Homo sapiens: one gene and its partners. The protein of the gene in region 1 interacts with the protein of each later gene in a pairwise test. Each region holds a gene or a part of one and is shown on either strand. Other genes may lie near its edges.

Evidence for each region.
Region 2: the proteins of WASHC3 (region 1) and PHOSPHO2 interact in binary tests that used the Homo sapiens proteins (3 or more experiments, as listed by UniProt).
Region 3: the proteins of WASHC3 (region 1) and SCARA5 interact in binary tests that used the Homo sapiens proteins (3 or more experiments, as listed by UniProt).
Region 4: the proteins of WASHC3 (region 1) and LHX4 interact in binary tests that used the Homo sapiens proteins (3 or more experiments, as listed by UniProt).

What each region holds. Positions count from the first base shown.
Region 1 is NC_000012.12:102,051,992-102,059,033, forward strand, and holds part of WASHC3 (WASH complex subunit 3), read right to left. Parts: intron 1-7,042. UniProt on the Homo sapiens protein: Acts as a component of the WASH core complex that functions as a nucleation-promoting factor (NPF) at the surface of endosomes, where it recruits and activates the Arp2/3 complex to induce actin polymerization, playing a key role in the fission of tubules that serve as transport intermediates during endosome sorting.
Region 2 is NC_000002.12:169,697,467-169,702,248, reverse strand, and holds the end of PHOSPHO2 (pyridoxal phosphate phosphatase PHOSPHO2), read right to left. Parts: 5' UTR 4,718-4,782; intron 4,385-4,717; exon of another isoform or gene 4,267-4,384; intron 1,304-4,266; 5' UTR 1,278-1,303; coding exon 552-1,277; 3' UTR 541-551; downstream 1-540. UniProt on the Homo sapiens protein: Phosphatase that has high activity toward pyridoxal 5'-phosphate (PLP).
Region 3 is NC_000008.11:27,982,653-27,989,694, reverse strand, and holds part of SCARA5 (scavenger receptor class A member 5), read left to right. Parts: intron 1-2,064; 5' UTR 2,065-2,079; coding exon 2,080-2,191; intron 2,192-7,042. UniProt on the Homo sapiens protein: Ferritin receptor that mediates non-transferrin-dependent delivery of iron. Mediates cellular uptake of ferritin-bound iron by stimulating ferritin endocytosis from the cell surface with consequent iron delivery within the cell.
Region 4 is NC_000001.11:180,275,239-180,279,501, forward strand, and holds the end of LHX4 (LIM/homeobox protein Lhx4), read left to right. Parts: 3' UTR 1-3,746; downstream 3,747-4,263. UniProt on the Homo sapiens protein: May play a critical role in the development of respiratory control mechanisms and in the normal growth and maturation of the lung. Binds preferentially to methylated DNA.

The DNA of each region.
Region 1 (7,042 bases):
ATCATACATAAAGGAGAAAAAGGTGGGACAACAGCAAGATGGGGGAATAGGACTTTCCAGCACTGATCCTCCCACAGAAACATCCATTTGAAAAACTATTCACGCACGAAAATACATTCTCAAGAGCTAAGGAGACCAGGTGAGAAATTACAGCACTGGGTTTAGCACAAAAGTAAGAAAAAACACACTGAAGAGGGTAAGAAGGACAGTTTTACAGAACTCATGTCACCCTTCCCCCAACTCCAGGCAGCACAGCATGGAGAGAGATACCCTCCAGGTGGGCGAAGGAGAGGCAGTGAGCACAGGACTTTGCCTTGGACCACAACACCAGGCCCACCCCAGCAGAACTCAGTGCTGAGCAAGCCCCCTCAGCCCAGACTCCAGGCTGACACCTGCAGGCGAAGCCTTTAGGCCCATCCTGGCACTAGGCTGGATCACCCAGTCCTGAGTTCTAGGCTTGTCCCACTGGGACCGTAGGTTCCAGACCAGCTCAAGGCTCAGGACAGTCCCAGCACCAGGCAAGACTGCATAGATTGTCTCCAGGTCTGCTCTAGGGACAGGCCAGCCCCAGTGGCCCTAGGTTCTGGACCAATCCCAGCACAGGGCTAGCCTCCATGGGCCCAAGGTTCAGGCCCACCCCAGCACCAGGTCAGCTCCTGCAGATATAGGTTCCAGGCCTGACCAGTGCCAAGTCAGCTCCTGTGGCCCCAGTCTGGCTCCTGCAGCCCATACCCTAGTGGAAGTAGGGTTTAGGCCCATCCCAGTAGGCCCTTCTGTTGGGCTGACACCCATAAACACAGGCTCCAGGACCATCCCTGTGGACTCAAGTTCCAGGCTAGCCACTATTGCCGTAGGACCCAGGCCAGCCCCATGTAGCCCAAGTTACCAGGCCAGCACCTATAATCTCAGGCTCCAGTCTGGCCCCTGTGACCCCAGGCTGCACACTTGCCCCAGCACCAAGCTGGCCCCAGACAAATCCCTGTGGTGAGTCAGGGTCTAGGTATGTTCCAGCAGACCCAGAGTCTGGGACCACCCCAGTAGATTGCATTGCCAGATTGGCCCCCATGGACGGAGGCTGCAGGACCACTCCTGCAGACTCAGGCTCCAGGCTAGTCACAGTACAACCAGGACCCAGGCCCACCCCCACATACTCTGGCTCCAGGTCCACCCCAGGGGTTCCAAGCACCAGGCCCACCTTGGAACCTGGCCAGACACTGCAGACTCAGGCTCAAGGCTCACCCCAGTGCCAGACCAACCCCTGCAGACTTAGGCTTCAAGTTGGAACCCTAAGGATCCAGGCCCACCCCTATAGAGCTAATCAGCAGGTCCACCCCAGTGGATCAGGCTCCAGGAACAACCCTACGAACCTAGGCACCAGGCCAGCCTACCCAAGGACTCCAGCAGCAAGCCTGCCATGCACCACAACAGATGGCCTGTCTAGAACCTCTGGATGAGCTTACTGGTGAAGGGCTTTCCCAGACAAAGCCAGTCTGCAAAGACTGGAGTAAGTCCTTACTTCTTCAAACACACACATACCAACACATGGCCACAAAGACCAAGAATAATCAGAGAAACACGTCACTACTAAAGAAACAAATCACCAGTAACTGACCCTTCTTCACAACGAATCCAAAATTATTGTTTTAGGGAAACTCAGTGGACTTCAGGAAAATTCAGAGAAACAATTCAATGAAATCAAGAAAATAATAAATGACCAAAATGAGAAATGTAACAGAAAGATTGGAATTATTATTTAAAAAATCAAACAGAAATTTTAGAGCTGAAAAAAAAATGTATACAGTCAAATTCAGAATATTCTAATACTGTCATGGTGATTAAATCACTTATATCTTTAGTATGAAAGTTAACAGACAAAACTATTAAAAATAATAATAGCTACAATAACTTGTTAAGGGATATGCAGTATAAAAAGATATACGTTGCAAAATCAAAAGCAAAATGTGGAGAGGTGGAGTAAAAGTGCAGAGGTTTTTTATGTTATCAATTATGTTATTATCAGTTTAAAATAGCCTGTTATAACATGTTTTATGTCAGCCTCATGGGAACAACAAAGCAAAAACCTAATAGTAAATACACAAAAGATGAAAAGTAAGGAATCAAAGTATATCACTAGAGACAATCATCTAATCACAAAAGACAGCAAGAGTGGAAGAAAGGAACAAAAGATCTATAAAGCAACTAGAAAACAATGAACAAAATCGCAGCAGTAAGTCCTTATCTATCAATAATTACCCTGAATGTAAATGGACTAAATTCTCTGATCAAAAGACACAGATTGACTGAATAGATACAAAAATAAGACCCAACTACCTGCTGTGTACAAGAGACTCACTTCACCTTTAAAAAATGGACACACATAGATTGAAGTGAAAGAATGGAAAAGAGCTCAGCACAGTGGCTCACATTTGTAATCCCAGCACTTTGGGATGCCAAGGCGGGAGGATCCCCTGAACTCAGGAGTTTGAGACTAGCCTGGGCAACATGGTGAGACGCCGTCTCTACAAACACCATGGACATATCATCCAGGCAGAAAATCAATAATGAAACACTGGCCCTAACAGACATATGTAGAAAATTCAATAAAACAGCAACAGAATACACATTCTTCTCAAGGGCACACAAAACATTCTCCAGGTTATATGATATGCCACAAAACAAATTTTAATACATTTAAGGAGACTGAAATCGTATCAAGTATCTTTTCTGACCATATTGGTTTGAAACCAGAAATCAATAATAGAAGGAATCTTGAAAAAAATCATAAATAACTGGAAATTAAATAACATGCTCCTAAACAACCAATAGGTCAAGTAAATTAAAAACGAAATTAAAAGTATTTTGAGACAAATGAAAATGGACATACAACACATCAATACTTATGGGAGGTGGCAAAAGCAGTTTTAAGAGGAAAGGAAGCTTCGGCAGTAAAGACCTATAACAAAAAAGATGAAAGATCCAAAGTGTAACATCCTAGTGTTACAACTGAAGGAATAGAAGAACAAATAAAACCCAAAGTTAGTAGAAGGAAAAAAATAATAATGATCGGAACAGAAAAAAATGAAAGAGACTAGAAAAACAATAGAAAAGATCAATGAAACTAAGAGCTGGATTTTTGAAAAGAAAAACAAAATCCACAAACTTTTAGCTAGATTAAGAAAAGGAGAAGATTCAAATAATATCAGAAACGAAAGAGATGTTACAACTGATACCACAGAAATACAAAGAATTGGCTTTTTCAGCCACAGAGCTCAATGCAGCTCAGTGACGTTATAAATGCTAATGAACTTAAGGTCTGATGTGTGTTTGAAAGAATCAGCGAAGCTTTTCTTTTTTCTTTTGTTTTGTTTTTTTGAGATGGAGTCTTGCTCTGTCACCCAGGCTGGAGTGCAATGGCGCAATCTTGGCTCACTGCAACCTCCACCTCCCAGGTTCAAGTGATTCTCCTGCCTCAGCCTCCCAAGTAGGTGGGAATACAGGTGTGCACCACCACGCCCAGTTAATTTTTGTATTTTTAGTAGAGACAGCATTCCACCATGTTGGCCAGGCTGGTCTCGAACTCTTAGCCTCAGGTGATCTGCCCACCTGGGCCCAAAGTGCTGGGATTACAGGTGTGGGCCACCGTGCCCCACCCATCAAAGCTTTTCAAGTAGATAAGAAGTATCTGAATATGGGACCACTGATATATTCAGAACAGAAGTTTTTGCTTTCTTTGTTTCTTTCATGGTGGTAGCTGGGGTGAATTTTTAGATGGTCCCAATTTTCTACAGGAATGTTTAGATGAGAATTTTTTGTTTCTGTCCTGTGGTTGAGTTGGTGCCACAGAGAATTTCCATAAAATTCAATTCCATTATTTAAAATAGTTTTTTTTAACTAGTTTTTCTATCAACCAGCCCCAGTCTGAAACTTGACACAGTGTTAACACAAAAGAGCAAGTACTTAATCTTCGTTCACATACTCTACCTACAAAGACATGACCTACAGTAGTTCTTCAAGCAGGTCAGTTTTAGGAGACGTTAATTCTATCTAACTAGACTAGCTATTTCACAACTATGTAAGACAACTTTATAAACTTTGCTTTAACTTACAAAGGTCATTTAATAATCCCATTGTTTTGACGATTCTAAAGATTGTAAGTTTATTTTTACAGTCTACTCTTAAATATTACTGTTGAGGCATATATATGGCAATGGTGGACTTAATTCTGCCTAAGATATCTGAGCATCTGTAGTAAAATATGAAGCTACCTTCATTTGGTTGATATGCTAAAGACATTTTTAAAAGTATCTCATTTTTTAAAAACTTGGTTTGTGTGTTTTGTATGCTCAGGAATTTTTCCACAGTACTGGAGACCATTGCAGTGATTAAATTTGGCCCTTTTGACAGAAAACAGAACAATGCATTCCTAGGGATAAAAAAGGGGTGACTGCAAAGGAGCATGAGGGAATTTTTGGAGTGATTCTATATCTTGTTCTACAACTATTCTACATCTTGATTATGGTATGATTATGCATTTGTCCAATCTCATACTTAATGGTAAATTTTACTGCATATAAGTTCATACTCCAATAAACATGACTTTACAATTAAAACAAAAGAAATATGAAGGCTCATAAGAGATTGCTATGACCAATTATATGCCAACAGATTGGATAACCTAGAATGGATAAGTTCCTAGACACATACAACCTATCAAGACTAAATCATAAAGAAATAGGTAATCTGAACAGACCAATAATAAGTAGAGAGATCAAATCAGTAGTTAAGTCTCCCACTAAACAAAACCCCCAGGACTTGATGCCTTCACTACTGAATTCTACCAAACATTTAAAGAAGAACTAATACAAATCCTTCTCAAACTCTTCCAAAATACTGAAGAGGAGGGGAAACTTTCGAACTCAATTTAGGAGGCCAGCATTATCCTGATTCCAAAGCCAGACAAATCCACTACAAGAAAAGAAAATCAAAGGTCAATATCCCCAGTGAACATAGAAGCAAAAATCCTCTACAAAATACTGGCAAGCTGAATACAACAGCGCATTAAAAAGGTCATTCACCAGGATCAAGTCAGATTTATCCCTGGGATACAAGGATGGTTCAACATATGCAAATCAGTAAAGGTGATACATCACATTAACAGAATGAAAGACAAAAACCGTATGATCATCTCAATAGATGGAACAAAGGCATTTGACAAAATTCAACATCCTTTGATGATAAAAACTCTCAACAAATTAGGTATAGAAAGAATCTAGCTCAACACAATGAAGGCCATTTATGACAAGCCCACAGCTAGCATCATACGCAATGGTGAAAACTGAAAGTTTTTCCTCTAAGATGAGGGACAAGACAAGGATATTCACTCTTACCCCTTCTATTCAACATAGTACTAGAAGTCCTAGCTATAGTAATTAGACAAGAGGGAAAAATAAAAGGCATTGAAATTGGAAAAAAGGAAATGAAATTGTTTCTGTTCGCAGATGGCATGCTCTTATATATTGAAAATCTTATAAAAAATTCCACCAAAAAATTGTTAGAACTAACAAACTACTTTGGTAAAGCTGCAGGATATAAAATCAACATACAAAAATCAGTAGCATTTCTATACACTAAAAGTAAACTATCTGAAAAAAAAGAAAAAAAATCTCATTTACAATAGCTACAAAAAAAATACATAGGGGTAAATTTAACCAGTGAGGTGAAAGATCTGTACACTGAAAACTATAACACATTGATGAAAAAAATTGAAGAAGACACAAATAAATGGAAAGATAACGTGTGTTCATGGATTGGAAACATGAATGTTGTTACAAGGTTGACACCACTCAAAGCAATCTACAGACTCAATGCAATCCCTATCAATTTTCCAATAATATTTTCACAGTAATAGAAAAAAAAATCCTAAAATTCATACTGAACCACAAAAGACCCTGAACAGGCAATGCAATATTAAGCCAAAAAAACAAAGCCAGAGAGATCACACTCTCTGATTTGAAAATCTACCACAAAGCTACAGTAATCAAAACAGCCATAGACCAAGGAAACAGAATAAAGAGCCCAGAAATAAATCCATGCATTTAAAGTCAATTGATTTTTGAGAAAGATGTTAAGAACACAGAAAAGACAGTTACAGAAACATACTTTTCACAGATGTTAAGAATAACAGTCTCAATAAATCATTTTGGGACAACTGGATATCCACATGCAGAATGAAATTAGACCCTCATCCTTTACCATATAAAAAAATTTAACACGAAAAGGATTCAAGATTTAAATGTAAGACCTGAAACTGTAAAACTACTAGAAGAAAACATAAGGGGAAAGTTGCACGACATTGGTCTGGGCAATGACTTTTTTTGGATATAAACCCCAAAGCACTGGTAACAAAACCAAAAATAAATAAATGGGATTACATCACACTAAGAAGTTTGTAGAATCTGGATTTTAAATTATTTTTTAAAAATTATTTTAAAAGACTACGAAGCTTTTGCACAGCCAACGAAACCATCAATAGAGTGAAGAGAACCTATGGAATGGGAGACTATATTTGGAAACCATATATGTGATGAAGGGAACCTCTGTACACTGTTGGTGGGAATGTAAATTAGTACAGCTATTATAGAAAATAGTACAGAGGTTCCACAAAAAATTAAAAATAGAACTACTATATGATCCAGCAATCCCACTTCTGGGTATATATCCAAAGGATGTAAAATTAGTACATTCAAGAGACATCTGTACTTGAAAGTTCACTGCAACATTATTCACAATAGCCAAGATACGGAATCAAAAGTGTCCATCAATGGATGAATGGATTAAAAAAAGTGGTATATATACACAATGGAATACTATTTAGCCTTAAAAAAGAATGAAATCCTGTCATTTGTGACAACATAAATGAACTGGAAGACATTGTGTTAAATGAAATAAGCCAGTCAAACAGAGACAGATACTGAATGATCTCACTTATATATGGAGGATAAAAAAGTACAACTCATAGAAATATTGAGTAGAATGGTGGTTA
Region 2 (4,782 bases), on another chromosome or scaffold:
GGAGGAATATCTAAGAGAATAAAATATGCTTACTTGCTCCAGGAATAAATTAAAAAATATAAACTATCAACCACCTTTAGTGGAGACCACTAGCTGTACCTAACTCAATTCTGTACTTTTTTCCCCAACTTTTCCTGGGCACATGACTACCTGGAATGAAAGCTATATTTTCCATCCTTCCTTGCTATTTACAAGTAAGGCATTATGACTAAGTTTGGCCAGTGACATTTAAATAGAAGTGTTGGGTACAACTTCTGGGAAATTTCTTTAGACAGGGGATGTAACTTTCTCACTGCCCTCTTTCTTGCTGGCCAGAGTGCTGCTGTGAGGGCTAGAGCTTCACCAGCAACCTTGGATCATGGGTTGAATGCCAAGTGCTGAGGTTGGTAGACTAACACAGCAACCCTGAAATACTTACCTCTGGAATTCTTTCATGTGAGAGGAAAAAAAAATTCTCTCTCTTTTTTTTTTTTAAGCCTCTGGTATTTGGGGTTTTAGTTTTATGCTGCTGAACCTAATCTTAAGTGATACACTTTTCAATTGCTGACATATTAATCCTTTATTAGAAATTGTAAATGAGAAATTATATCAACACCTGAGGACCAAACTACAACAGAATATTCCATAGGCTCAAGATTTTGAGACATTCTGGAAAGAGTTTTCTGTAAGGTATATCCTTTCCGTGGCATGGCAACATCATCATTCTTTAAAAAGGTGACTGGACAGACATCATTTCCACCATCACCAATATAAACAATTTGTGTATAATTCACTCCCTGTTGTAACTGTTTATCTACAAATTCTATCAAAACTACCTTTTTGCAAAGATTCTTTGGGCATCTATTGCAAGAATGAGTATGATAATTTTCAACAGTGAGATGACCATTGCTATTAAAAGCTGCTGGATTTGTAAACACTTTATCAAATATGTCATGAAAACTGGCAGCTTCTAAAACCCAATCTATGAAGACCGAATTTGAATCTGAAATAATAATGCAGTCAAATTTATCCTTATTCTTTCTTATAAAGTTGAAGAGTTCCACCATCCCTGGAGTGAAAGGCAATGATGTCACTGCTCTTTTCATTTCATGTTCTCTTACACCCTTATCTCCCAAATACTTAAAGACTCTGCCCATAAATTCTGTCCAAAATCCTTTTCGATAAGAATCACGTAGTTCAATAGGAAGCTTTTTGTTGGGAGCACATTGTACAATCCAAGTGTCACTATTGTCATCTATGATTGTATTGTCAAAGTCAAAAACTAGCAAAATTTTCATGGTTCCAGAAATAGATTTGGATTACCCTGAAAAAGAAGAAATATTATTCCCTAAACAAACTCTGTTTACATATCTAGCTAAAATACTTATTTAATAAACATAACTAAATGTTAATCTGCTAAAGGGAGGAATATAAACAAAGTAATTAAGCACTTCAAGACCACTACCTAACCACTTTTCTCTAAGAAGCAAAGTTCGTATTTGAGTATTTTAAGTGGAAAACAAAATATATAAAAAGGACATTCATAGTATTATTGTGTTCCTGGAGGTGTGTTTCTTATAGAATTTATAAGAAAGAAAAAAAAGCATTTCTTACTATCATTAAATTATCAATCAAACCACACTTATTTTATTAGATTAAAATATTTACAATCCTCATATTAAATAACAGATCATGTATAAAGGACTCTCTGTGTACTAACCAAAATTCTGAACAAATTTAACATAACATGAAATCTTGGAAGATGTAAAATAACTTTTTAAGAAAAGGTATTTAGTAACAAAAACAAGCAATGGGGAAAGGATTCCCTATTTAATAAATGGTGCTGGGATAACTGGCTAGCCATATGCAGAAAACAAACTGGACCCCTTCCTTAACACCATATACAAAAATCAACTCAAGGTGGATTAAAGACTTAAGTGTAAAACCCAACACTATAAAAAACCTAGAAGAAAATCTAGGCAATACAATTCAGGACACAGCAAAGGCAAAGGTTTCATGACAAAGATGCCAAAAGCAAATGCAACAACAGCAAAAATTGACAAATGGTATCTAATTAAACTAAAGAGCTTCTGCACAGCAAAAGAAACTATCAACAGAGTAAACAGACAACTTAGAGAATGGGAGAAAATTTTTGCAATTTATCCATCTGACAAAGGTCTAATATCCAGCAACTATTATAAAGTTGAAAAGTTCCACCATCCCTGAAGTGAAAGGCATCGATGTCACTGCTCTTTTCATTTTATCTTCTCTTACACCTTTAGCTCCCAAATAGTTAAAGACTCTGCCCATAAAATCTGTCCAAAATCCTTTTTGATAAGAATCATGTAGTTCCTTGATAAGGAACTTAAACAAATTTACAAGAAAAAACAAACAGCCCCATTAAGAAGTGGGCAAAGACACAAACAGACAATTCTGGAAAGAAGACAATACATGTGCCCAAGAAATATATGAAAAAAAAGCTCAACATCACTGATCATTAGAGAAATGCAAACTAAAGCCACAACGAGATACCATCTTATACTAGTCAGAATGGCTATTATTAAAAAGCCAAAAAATAACAGATGCTGGCAAGGTTGTGGAGAAAAAGGAACACTTTTACACTGTTGGTAGGAGTGTAAATTAAATTAGTTCAACCATCGTGGAAGACAGTGTGGTGATTCCTCAAAGACGTAGAGGCAGAAATACCACTTGACCCAGTAATCCCATTACTGGGTATATACCCAAAGGAATGTAAATCATTCTATTATAAAGATACATGCAAGCGTATGTTCACTGCAGCACTGTTCACAATAGCAAAGACATGGGATCAACCTAAATGCCCATCAATGACAGACTGGATAAAGAAAATGAGGTACTTATACACCATGGAATATTATGCAGCTATAAAAAGGAATGAGATGATGTCCTTTACAGGGACATGGATGGATCTGGAAGCCATTATCCTCAGCAAACTAACACAGGAACAACAACAAGAAAAACCAAACACCATGTGTTCTCACTTATAAGTGGGAGCTGAATCATGAGAACACGTGGAAGGGAATAACATACCCTGGGACCTGTCAGAGGGTGGGGGTGGGAGGAGGCAGAGCATCAGGAAAACAGCTAGTGGATGCTGGGCTCAATACCTAGGTGATGTGATGATCTGTGCAGCAAACCATCAGGGCACACACTTACCTATGTAACAAATCTACACATCCTGCACATGTACCCCTGAACTTAAAAGGTGGAAATCAAAAAAATTAAAAAAGTATTTAGCTTAAAATCAATTTCTAAATATCAATATTATAAGTAAATGATTGCTGACACTCTATATGATATTCTAAACAAATTACCTGAGAACTGGAGGCCAATTTAATTCTTCCAAACTAGAAGTAACTTGGTTAAGAGTTTTCACATGTTTATTTATAGCTGCTCTAGATAGTTTAGCTCTGGGGTGCCAAATAATTTGAATACACCTGAGTAATCATACTGTTTGTGGTGTGACAATTACTTATGTCTCTGTTTTCATTAGAATATAATGAAGGTGATTAATTATAAATCTCAAGAGAAAAGGAAAGAATAAGCTGGTCAACTGATGGTAAGAATAAACATTATTTATAAAAAATAACTATATAGAATATCCAGAAAAGGATATAATTAATGTGTGTAAACAGATAATAATAATAATTTTGAGAGTCATTATATGTCAGGCACTGACCTAAAAACTTTGCAATATCATACCATTTAATTGTCACAACCCTATTAAGTAGGAATCATTATTATCCTCATCTTAAAGATATATAAGCTGGATCTTGAAGTGGTTAGGTGTTAGTAAAGTGCCAGAGCTGGAATCTTAGGTTGATTTGATTCCAGACTTCATGCTTTTAAGTACCAAATTCTAGTGTTAAAAAATAGAATATTTAATGACTACTCATTAGTTTAAAAATATAACACTAAGTAGGTAATTTTGGCAGAAAGATATTTAATTACATAAAAACATTCATTACTTTCAAAGTACACACTAACCATAACACCACATCTGTGATACTCTTTATAACCATTTTGAGGTTTTTACAAGAAATCCTAAAAAGGCAAAGAACCACAGCAATAAGAAAAAGATCAATTAAAAATGAAAAACATGGCATTTAACCACACATATTCTCCAGTTTATAACAGTAGACACCCAGTAGTGAAGACAGAATAGAGCTCTTGACTCACATAAGACTAAGTATTCTGTGTCTCTTAATTTAGAATATCTAGAGAATAATTAACCTATAGGGGTATCACCTGTTGTGTGAATGTGGCTGGTACATAGTTTTTGTTATTCTGGATCCTTGTATCACTAAATGCCTAATCCAGATGCTTCTGACTGGTTCCCTGAAATTTAAATGCAGAATTCACTTTCCTACAGAAACAATGTAATAAATAATAAGGCATAATTGACAATCACAGTAGTACTGTAACTAGGCACATTTTAAATTAAATATGCTTTTTGAGAATTCTGAATTTATAATTAAAACAAATTTCAAATGTAACTCACTGTTGTTTGAAAACTGCCTCAAACCTAAACTTAATTAGCCACAAATTACTGAAATTCCTGAATTATTAGCCTCAAAATAGCATGAGACTGAGGTAACATAGTTCCCCTGCTGATCTGAAAGTGCACTTTTAAAATTTTCCCATCTTTTTCTGTTAGTATTTTCTCACCACTCAACATAAACCTTTAAAAAATACTTACCCAACTTAGTATTTCCAAGACAATCTTACTTCAGCATTGGGATTAGGATAAACAATCATGACAAT
Region 3 (7,042 bases), on another chromosome or scaffold:
GCAGAGCCGAGGACCACCCCCTGTTCCATCCCTCCCATAGGCTGGAGGAGAGGCCCGCAGATACTGGGAGCCCCAAGGCTGTGTGTGTGCACATGCGTGTGTGTGCCCGTTATGGGGGATGTACAGAAGGGCTAACAGCAGAGGCGTCCAGCCCTCCTGGGTCATTAGAAGGACATGTATACAGTGACTGGTCAGTTCTGGTCTCTTCTCAGCCCAAATGTCAGAGGTCTGTGGAGGCCAAGCTCAAGTCATGAAAATAGGGGCTTCAGCTGGGTGCAGTGGCTCACACCTGTAATCTCAGCACTTTGGGAGGCTGAGGCCAGTGGAGCGCTTGACTCCAGGAGTTCCAGACCAGCCTGGCCAACATGGTGAAACCCCATCTCTGCAAAAAATTAGCTGGACATGGTGGCTTGTGCCTGTAATCCCAGCTACTCAGGAGGATGAGTTGGGAGGATCACTTGAGCCCGGGAGGCGGAGGTTGCAGTGAGCCAAGACTGCACCACTGCCATCCAGCCTGGGCAACAGAGTGAGACCCTGTCTCAAAAAAAAAAAAAAAAAAAAAAAAGAAAGAAAGAAACAGAAAAAAAAAAAGAAGAAAGAAAATACGGAATTCTTGTTTTGCTCTGCTGCAGAGCAACCCCGCCAGCCGCCTTCCCTGATTATGTCTATTTATGAAAGTTGCCACGCCTCCTTGCCCACCCTCCCTCTGAAGAGAAACTGATTGACTGATCTCTCAATCAACAGGCATTGTCCCCCCACTGCCACCTGCCAGCCCTGCATCCTCTCCTCCCAGCCTCCTCTGGGTTGAAGGGTTGAGTTTGCTCCATACTGGGCCTGGGACCCATCCTCATGGGGCTTTTATCTTCTAAAGGATGCTGTTCTTTGGTTAAATGTCCAGATAGTTAAAGAGAATCAGAAGCAAAGGTCAAGATAAACTCATGGCTGGAACCTTGATGAAAGTAGAGAATAATTTGTAAAGTCACTGAGCATTTATGTGACAAAAACAATATCAAGAAATTGATGTATATACTTTGTAATTTGGCTTAAAAAACAGATTCTTCTCATTACATAAGGAATGTAAATGCATCATAGAAAACCCAGAAAATCTGAAAGCAAAAAGGAATATTAAATCCCCACAATCCCTTCCAGCCAGAGTCCTGTAATACATTTCTCACCCGGAGCCATCATAGCGTCTTACATCCACACGCACCTTACGCGTGCATGTCTTACAAAATGGGATCGTGTTGTACACATTGTTGCGTCAACAGGCTGTTTCCTTTCAAAGAGCATAGGATTCTCCTAAGTCAATGTATATGCTCCTGGACCATCATGGCGTAGACCCAGAGACCCAATGAGTCAGCCTCTGGGGGCCATGCAGACAGAAGCCCTCCCTGGCCTAAAGCTGTCCAGATGCTTAGTGCCTGGGTGTCCCTTCAGAGGCTCCCTGCTCCTCGGGCCCCACCACAGTAGATGAATCCCTGCTGTGGTCCTACTGAGCCAAGCTCCTTCCAACATGCCAGCCCCGTTGGATTTGGGAGCAGTCCTGGTCTGCTCAGCTTTGTTTGCAAGTGGACTCTGTACCCCCTCTGAATGCCCCTTCATATCTAGTTTCCTTCCTTCATTTCCAACACAGAACAGAAGCTCAAGTCTCTCTGGCATGCCCCGGGCTTCTGAGGGCTCAGAGCCTGCTCTCAGGTTACCTTTTGAGTCAGCAGGGTTCCCTCCTCCTGGCCCCACCCAGTGTAACCCACAGTGACCCCAGCTCAGGATTCCAGCCCCACTGAGAGTTGTTGAAAGGAATGGACACATCCCACCATCAGAAAGGCCCAAGGGCCTTGGTCTTCTGAAGCCCTGAGGAAGCTGGGAGTGGGGGCATCACGGCCCCAAGGACCTGGAGGATGGCACCTGGGTCCTGGTGATGAGCAGAGGGTCCCGGTGTTCAGGCTTAGGGTCAGGGGTGGGCACCTTGTTCTATCCATTTGCTTCTGTTTCCACCTACAGTTGATTCTCTGTCTCTCTCCCGGCCTTCGTCCTCCCTCTCCTCCCCTCTTGCCTTCTCTGCAGCTGTTGCAGGGTGTGATGGAGAACAAAGCTATGTACCTACACACCGTCAGCGACTGTGACACCAGCTCCATCTGTGAGGATTCCTTTGATGGCAGGAGCCTGTCCAAGCTGAACCTGTGTGAGGATGGTGAGTGCAGCTGGCTCAGACTTGGGGCACAAGATCTGGCCTGGGGGTGGGGAAGGAGCCCTACCACCACCCAACCTTGGCATTGCCTTTAAGTGCTTGTGACCTCCTCATGTAATAGTGCATATATTGAACTTTATGCTTTAAAAGGTCTTCTCCATGGGTTTTCTCATTCATTCACTTCCACAAACCTGTCAGCAAGATGAGTACTCATTTTACAGATGGACAGATTTCACAGTCCATCAGTCTTATGGTGGTCCAGCATGGAGCCTCCTGACTCCGAGGGCCATGCTTCTGCTCCTGAGAGAGTGAGACTCGGGTCAGGCAAGGGCCTCTGAGCCAGTCAGTGCAGACCCTCTCAGGTGAGGAGAGGGGCCTCCCACCCACTTCCTGAAGCACTCGTGAGGGGCAAAGAGCTCTCCAAGGTGCTCATCCTGCCCCTGGGTGCAAGGCCCTGGTCTTGCCACAGAAAGGGGTCCCCAGGCCAGTGACCCAGAAGGCCTTGCATCTCAGGGGCTGCTTATTTGCTAAAACCCTGGAGATCCAAGTGATGCAGCTTCCTTTGGAGGAGCCCAGAGCGCTTTTCCACCAGCTTGGCTCCTGTGCACCCAGTAGATGACTGATAAGTTCTTGCTGCATGCAGCACATGTCAGAGAGGAGAGCATTGCCCCCACGTCAAAGAGAAATAGAATGAAGCTTACTGAGGAGCCTTGCAAAGACTTCCGGCCAAGGAGAGACAGGCCTTTTCCTCTCTTGTTTTGCTCCACTCTGCCAACTGCCTCTTGAAATTACTCAAGAGCAATGACTCCACTCTTCTCTTCCTCCGACCCTGCATTCCTCCCACAAGGCGCTGAGTGTAGGGAAAGAACCGTGGTGGCTTAGAGTGGGGAGAGTCTCTGCAGGCAGAGGACACAAGGAGATTTGGGCTTCTGACCAATGAACCTGCTCACCCAGCCCTAGGATTGTCCACCATGGTGGCTCTTCTTCTGGATTCCAATTGACAAACATATTTTGAGGATCCACGACGTGTCAGGCCAGGGTGAGCAGCCAGGGATTCTCCAAACACAAATTAAAAAATCTCTGTCCTCAAAGGGCTTATGATCCCAGTAGAAGAGGCTGGCATGGGAACAACTGCCTATAATATACAGTAGGCCAAAATGTGTGTGAATAATAAAGTCAGGCGAGCAGAGGGCTTTCTGGAAAAGGGCTGGAAGACTGAAGGAGATTGTCTAAGAGAAGATGTGGGAAAGATATTCCTATTTGTGTGACACCAAGCTGGGTCAGGTTTCTGTAAGGCTCACACCAGTCAGGCGGAGGAGAAGGCCTGGGGTTCTGGTCCCATGCAGAGCTCCCATCAGTCCATCCGCAAAGGGGAAGGTGGCATCCATATCCACTGGCACATCAGCAAAGGGGCTTGGTTTGGCAAGAAAGACTGGGTACAGCACAGTGGGGTGATTGGAGAGGACTATCAGGGCCAGCCTGGGGGGCCTCAGGGGTGGGAGGGGTCAGATGTCCCTGGGACCACCATACCCACTTCCTAGTACCTCATCTTACTCTCCCTTTTTCTGAACCCCAGATTGTTTTTTTAAAAAGCTCATTTGGACCAGAACGACTGGAAATTAACAGCAACCCTAGCCACTGCGCCTTCTGGGCCCCTCCTCTGTGGGGAGCTCTGTCAGAGGGCACTTTGGGAGCCATGCTAGCCATGTCCTGTCCCAGGGTTCCCTGATGCTAGGGCCCAGGTGCAGGGCAGACAGCAGAGGTTGAGAGGTGTGGAGTCCAGGCTGATTCGTGCCTCCTGGGCCTCTGTGGGCCTCAGTGTACTCATCTCAGGCTGACTCGTGCCTCCTGGGTATGTGACCCTCTGTGGGCCTCAGTGTACTCATCTGCCAAATGGGGATGCAGGGGGTTATCTCTGAGGTCCTATCTGGTTCTAGAATTCTGTGTGTAAAATTGGACCTGGCCATTGAATTAGGAGTGTGGCCCTTTTCAACCCCAAGTTAGAATATGATACTATGCTGGGCAAAGCATGGCTGTGGCTCCCACTTCAGCAGGAGTGAAAACTCGGGTGCTGACAATGTGCCCAAGAGGTCCTGTGCCTCTCCCCTCTGTGCTGCCCCAACCTTGGCAGGGAATCTCTGACTTGCTCACCTGGGTCTTTTGCCCTTAGAAGGGTGCTTCCCTGGCATCCCCCAGTGTGCATTACTGCCCCCTCCCACTTGGTCCATGCTCTCACCTCCCCCAGGACTTAGCTCAGCTCCCACCTTCTGCGAGGCCTGAGTTTCCATCCCCCTTTCCCTGACTCTTTTTTCCTTTCTTCCGTGGTCTGACTTCCTCATGACACTGTAGTCTCCTTATTTACATGTATCATTTATTATCCATTCCCTGAGGCAAGAATATAGGCTGGACCACAGTAGGCATCTCTGTTTTGCTTATTGATGTCTCCTGAGCCCAGCATACAGTAAGTGCTCACTAGGCATTTTTTGAATGAATGGATGAATGGGTGGATGGATGAATGAAGGGAATAGATGGATGGATGAATGAATGGATAGATGGATGAATGAATGGATGGATGAATGGGTGAATGGATGAATGAATAAATGGATGGATGAATGAATGAGTAAATGAATGAATGGATGGATGGATGGATGGATAGCTGGATGGATGAATAGATGGATAGATGAAAGGATGGATGAATGGATGGATGAATGGGTGAATGGATGGATGAATGAATGAATGGATATGTGAATGAATGAATAAATGGATGAATAATGAATGGATAGATGGATAGCTGGATGGACGGATGAATGGATGGATGGATGCATGGATGGATGGGTGAATGGATGGATGAATGAATGGATGGGTGAATGAATGGATGGATGGATGCATGGATGGATGGATGAATGGATGGATGAATGAATGGATGGGTGAATGAATGGATGGGTGAATGAATGGATGGATGGATGAATGAATGGATAGATGGATGAATGAATGGATAGATGAATGAATAAATAAATAGATGAATGAATGAATGGATGGATAAACAGAGGGGTCCTCGAAGTCTAAATGTGGCAAAGCATTCACCATCTACACCTGATTGCCGAATTCTCTGGGTCCATCTTCATTCCTGGCTGCCAGGTTGGGGGCTGGAATATGGGGAACCCAGGCAGAGTAGAGTGTTGAGATGAAGCCAGTGACTTCAAAGCTTGTGGGCTTCCAATTTGATTTTTCCCCCTTTTCCTTTCATTTCAGAGAGGAAAATGATGAGCTTGACTTGGGGAAATTCAAGCCAGATTTGATCTGTTTTAGAAACCCTTTAGAAGGGTTTTGCTGCATCTTTGATCCTTATCTCTGCGGAGTGAAATGGGAGAGGAAGAGGAAAGGGTGGGGCCAGGCAGGGAGGGAGGAGGGGGAAGTTGGGAAGAGATGGGAAAGGAAGGGAGAGCCAGCACCCTGAATCCGGTCAGGGCCGCCCTTGAGCCTTTATTTAGTAAATGAAGACGGTGAAGTGTGAGGTCCAGGACAAGCTCCAAGTCCCTTACAGGTCTTCCTCCTTCAATGGAGGGCGAGAGGTGGGAAGAGGGGAGGAGAGATGGCACTTCTTGTTGGAGGCTGGCCATGGGGATAGTGGGATCAGGGGAGGCAAAGTCCCAAAAGTACAGCCCTGACATGAAGGTAAGATGCAGCCTTCCCTGGTGGTGGGACCTGCTGAGTCCCGGGTCCGGTCACTGGCAGGCTCCCCAGTGTTCCTGCTGGGTGTGATGAGCTGCCCCACTCTCATGGCCCATGTGCTGTGGAGTGCAGGACTCATCTTCACTGAGACCGGAGAGGTCAGGACTGTGTTTTGCTCCTCTGGGAATTCTTTCGGGACCTTGTAGGTGGCAGATGTCCCAGAAGTCTTTGTGATTGTTGGTAAATGATGTGGTAAGTCCACTCAAGTCATCAGTGGTGGAGCTGGAACCGGACTCTGAGTCTCCTTACCTGAGATGCAGGCTCCTTCCCAGGATGGGGATTTCACGGGGTTGGACTGATGGTGCCAAGGAGTGACTCCCCTCACTTCTGGATTTGGAACCAATTGGGAAATAGACAAGGAGGCATGTGGGAATCCAAGTGCAGAATCTGCCTTAAGCCTGGAAAAGCTCTGTTCACGATGTGGCTGCTGGCACCCCCAACAGACACTCACCCAGCCAGCAAGCGTGAGTGCCCCTGTCCAGGCACCAGCCTTCACCTGGTTCACCCACACACGCCCTCCTGCCCATCCACCTGAGAAACAGGGACAAGAAATGCCAGGTTACAGACAGCTCACCCATTGGACAAGGTAGCACTTCCTGCAGGCAGAAGTGCTGAGGAGTCCCTCTTTTATGGGCTTGGGCAGGTGGTCAGTCCAGAGATGAAAGGAGCTCCCTGCAGCCACCACCAGAGGTGAGAGCAGGAAAAGCAAGAGAGGAGGTGAGGGGACACCCTTGGGGTATGGGCTGAGTGGGGGCTCGATGCCCAGGGAGCTTCCTCAGCGCAGAGGAAGGGACCCTCCTCTAGCAGAGCAGCTCCTGCAGGCACCGTTCCACTCCTGCACCGGACCTGCTGTTTTTTTCTCTTTCCTTCTCGCCCCTCATTTCTCTTCACCCTCCCTGCCTTTATCCCTTCCCTTTCTTCACTTGCCAGGTGAGATGGGAAGAGGAGGGACTGTTGGGTGCCTTGGTTCTCTGTCCCCTCCCTGAGCAGCCATCTTGCCCAGCTCCTCCAGCTCGTCCTGTCCCTGCATCCTTCAAGGCCCCGCAGGTACCCCTTGCTCTCTGATGCCTTTAGAGCCTCCCTTCTCTGCATGCCTGGGCGGGGCCACCTCTGGAATCTGCC
Region 4 (4,263 bases), on another chromosome or scaffold:
TTGACTCTGATGGCAAGAGGTGGTTTTCATTGCAGGTGACTGAGGCTGAGCTGAGTAGCCCTGGACCACCGCTGCAGATTGCCTGAGTCGTCCCCTTGGTGCACAGTGTGCCTTCTTCAATTGCTTGTATCATTTATTCCACAAGACAGGCTGTGGGCTGTAAAATGAGCAAAACTAAAATGTGGGGAGAACAAAATGACAATCAATCAGTGAACATTTGTAGACACATTTGGATTCCAAACCTGCAGTCTGTTCAGCCATATCGGCTGATGCCAGTCTTCCAGAGTTCCCCATCCCTTGTAGGGTGAAATATTTGGAGTCTGTTTTGAAGGAGTTGGTTTAGATGAGCTTGCAAGTCTACCCCTCTGAAAGCTTTCTCTGCTGTCCTAGCTGACTCAATTGGAGGACAGTTTTGGTCATTTCCAGGAACCAGCAATTTTTTTTTGGCCTACCTTGGTTGGGAAGAGTAATTTAGGGAGCAGCCCTAAAATTGTCCAAAGGGTTCTAAGTGGTTCTTGGGCTGCATCTCTCTGGATTGCTGGCTGGACACCTGCCATGCCTTGGGCTGCAGTCCCATGGTCAGAAAGCCAGAACTCTCTGGCCAGTGGTGGTGCAGGGACTCCCCGTTGTGCAGGTTTGCAGTAGCAAATCACTAAGCCTGAGGCCAGAGCAAGGCCAACCCCCGCTTTACGAGTTGCCACTCCTGCGACAGACTGCACTGCTGTGGGAAACGCTGTCCTGAATGGTGCTGCAGCTCCCACCCACCTTGTGCACCCATCTACCATCAGGAAGCTCTCCATGTGCAAACTGGAATTTAGCCAGCTGGAATTTATTCCTGTCCCTCTGGGAAGCTGTGTTTGCTTCTTCTGGCCTCCCATTCTCTTAAATGAGATCAGCAGAGTAGGAAAGGGTGAGAAGGCATTGCCTATCACATGAAGTGATGGGGCCAGAGACCCTAAGGACCCTTCCTTCTACGAATGGTTGGTCACCTTTTGAGGACTGCAAAGACTTAGGCATGTCATAGGCAGACTAAAGGAAGAATACACAGTTCCTCTTGGACTGCTACATCTTTTGTAAGCCCTTTTCCAGGACTAAACTAAGTTCAATTAAGTAAGTTCTTTAAAACAGTAAATTCCGGGATCAGCCTTCGGGCCCTCTTCTCTGACCAATTTTATAGCGTACCCTCGTTTTTTGGTGTGCTGCAGTGGTCATGATTTTTGCTTGAGAAGTCTGCAAACATAGACACTTCTCTTGAGGTTCCATGTTTATGGATGATGTTGTGTTAATCCTAGCCAATTCTGTGCTATTGGGAATTCTCCAATCATGAACACTGGGGTGGGGAGGAAGACACAAATGCCATGTGAGGAAAGGAAAATGCAGTCGTCTTTTTGGAGGATGGCTTTTTAAATACACCCTTCTTAGCAGGCTGCTTAAAATACACAGGAGAAAAGGCTCTGCTGGGCAATGAACCAGATGAAAAGCTGCCCACCCAGATCACTGTTGCAGGTTGACTATTTGGCTTAGCAACTCATGGGATTTCAGAGGCCCTTGAAGTTTTTGGTGAGTATAGTGTGGGGGAGAGCAGGCTTTTTAAAAGGGGGGGGGGCATCCTCCTCTGTGTAGCACTGTTTAAGATCACTGTAAGTAAGTTGACCAGTTTTTGTAAGTTAATCATACTAATTCCCAGTTCAATAGTGGAAGGAGAGGCCTTCCTCATTTATACTAATAATATAATAAATCTCTTGAGGAACTCAGTGAGCAGTTGACGAGGTCAATAGTTCTTTGGCATCAGTAGGGCTGGTTAGCTGGAAAAACCCTTGAGAGCACTGGCCTGAAAACCAGGAGAGCTTTGTTTTCCAGAGCCACCTCCCCAGAAAGCAGCAAACACTGCTGCCTGTTTAGAAGCACAGCCACAGTAGGTCTAAGATTTTAAATGGATCTCCCTACAGGTTGGGTTAGCATTATGGGTGGGCTGGTGCCACTAATGAGCCATTGCATGACAGGACTCTTCTGGGGTTTGGAAATGGAGAAAAGCCGGGCATTCATTACTTTTAGCTTCTCTTAGAGGCACTCCTCTGTTGCTTGGAAGTCTATTATGGGGTATAAGGTGCTACATGGTAGCTGTTTCCCCCCTTGCTAAAATGACATGGATGAATTTTAAAAATGAAATGAGACCTTCTAGAGGCAACCATTATCTGCAGTGCCTGGCTGGTCGACTTTAGAGTAGGAAGCTCTTGAATCCAGGAGCAAATTAGTTAAAACCCCAAGTTCCAGTGGTAACTGGTATAAGCAAAATGGAAACTGAGGGGCTATGGAGGAATCTCTGTTTGTTGGAACGTAATGAAACCATGGAGGAAATACCAGATTTAAGGGCTAAGAAGCTGGCCCGATGGGTAAATCAGTGTTGGGAGTCAGGTTCTTGGCCCTTCAAGGACTTGCTATGCAACCTCAGGCAAATTCCTCTCAGTCTTTGTGCTTTCTCTTTCTTGTCTCATCTGACAGTTATGAATATAACGTAAAATAAAGATCAACTATCATTGATAACACTGTTCCTGCAAATGAATACTGTGAAACATCAGGGAAAGAGGAAAAAATTAAGCCACAAGAAAACCATTTGGCAGTGTCCTTAAACTTTTTTTGGGGGGGGGCAGTGTAAAACATGAAACCTAGTAAGATAATTGGGCCATTAGATCTTCATCATTAAACTCACTTTGCAAGGAAGTGTAAGAAATCTGTAAAACAAAAGACATTCCTATCTCAGAAGCTCAAACTGGTGATTTCCAACTGCCTCTTTACAGGAGGGGGCTCAAGGCTTCTGATGAGCAAAGGCTGTGTGTTGTATGACAGTCCACTCTCTGCACCTACACTTCCACGTGCCACGACTGACAACTTGGTTATAACCATGAAAATAATGACCATACCTCCCCAGCCAGCAGGGTCTGGAAGGCCTGAGGAGGCTCATTTTTAAACACTGCACTTTAAAAATTGGAAACCGTGAGATGAAGAAAAATTCAATTAAGCGGAAATGAGTTTTGTTTTATTGCCTGCTGCTGAAGGGCTCTGGGCATGCTGAAAGCTAAATGAAAAGCACATCACTGGCTCTCTTCTTTCTTGGATTGGTCAATTGGCCCTTTTTGCAGTAGTTGCTCCAACTGTTCTAAACAGTGAGTGACTGGAGCCAAAAAGAGAGAGCTCAGCAAAGCCATCCCATCCACACTCTGCTTGGTAGGACCACACTAAAAGCACAGTTTCATGCTGCTAGCTCTGGTAAGGAGACAGCTGCAGGTTTGGGAGGTGCACCAAGCATTCCTTTGCTTAGGGAGGCAGAGCACAGGTGAACAGAGGAAGGACACCCCCACTCTCATCTATTGCCCACCGAGAGGCAAGAATCACACCAACTTTCCCACTTGAGGACTGTGTTCGGCCAAACAAGCAGGTTCAGGGCTGCGGGATTCCAGAAGTTGCTCTGAGCTTGCAATCAGACCTCAAAGCCCCAGATCCCCTCAGCTCTGGATCGTTGCCCTCATCCTTCACAATGTAAATTTTGTACAGTTAAAGAGAAATGAAGTCTCGTTTCCTGGGGAAAAAAAAGAAAAAAAGAAAAAAAAAAGACCCACCCATCCTTATTTATTGCCATATGACTTTGGAAAACAGAAGCTGGTGCGTTTGTTTGTATATGCCTCCTGTGTGTTGGCATGAGATGTGTACGGTAAAATTATGTAAAATAAATATGGAAATTCTTTAGATGCTGATGTGTCTTGCTTTTCATTTGGTTTGCTGGAAGTTTTTTCTCTTGACATAAATAGAATAAAAACTGAGTGATGTGAGGTCCTTTCCTTTTATCATCAGAAGGAAACCAAATATACAACTCTGAATGCCAGAACTATTATACTTAGAGCCATGAAATACCAGAACCACTCAATAAAGGACTGATTAGAGGAAGTTCCCTGGTTTTTCTAATAGTCATTTCCTGGGCACGATCCTCTGCCCCCAGACTTAGGAAATGAGCAGTAGAAATGTTGACCATATAACTTTTAGTTCCTGTTTGTTCAGTGGCATTTTTAAAATTTTTTTTTGAGACAGAGTCTTGCGCTGTTGCCCAGGCTGGAGTGCAGTGGTGTGATCTCAGCTCACTGCAACCTCTGCTTCCTGGGTTCGAGTGATTTTCGTGCCTCAGCCTCCAGAGTACGTGGGATTACAGGCATGCGCAAACACGCCTGGCTAATTTTTTGTATTTTTAGTAGAGACGGGGTTTTGCCACGT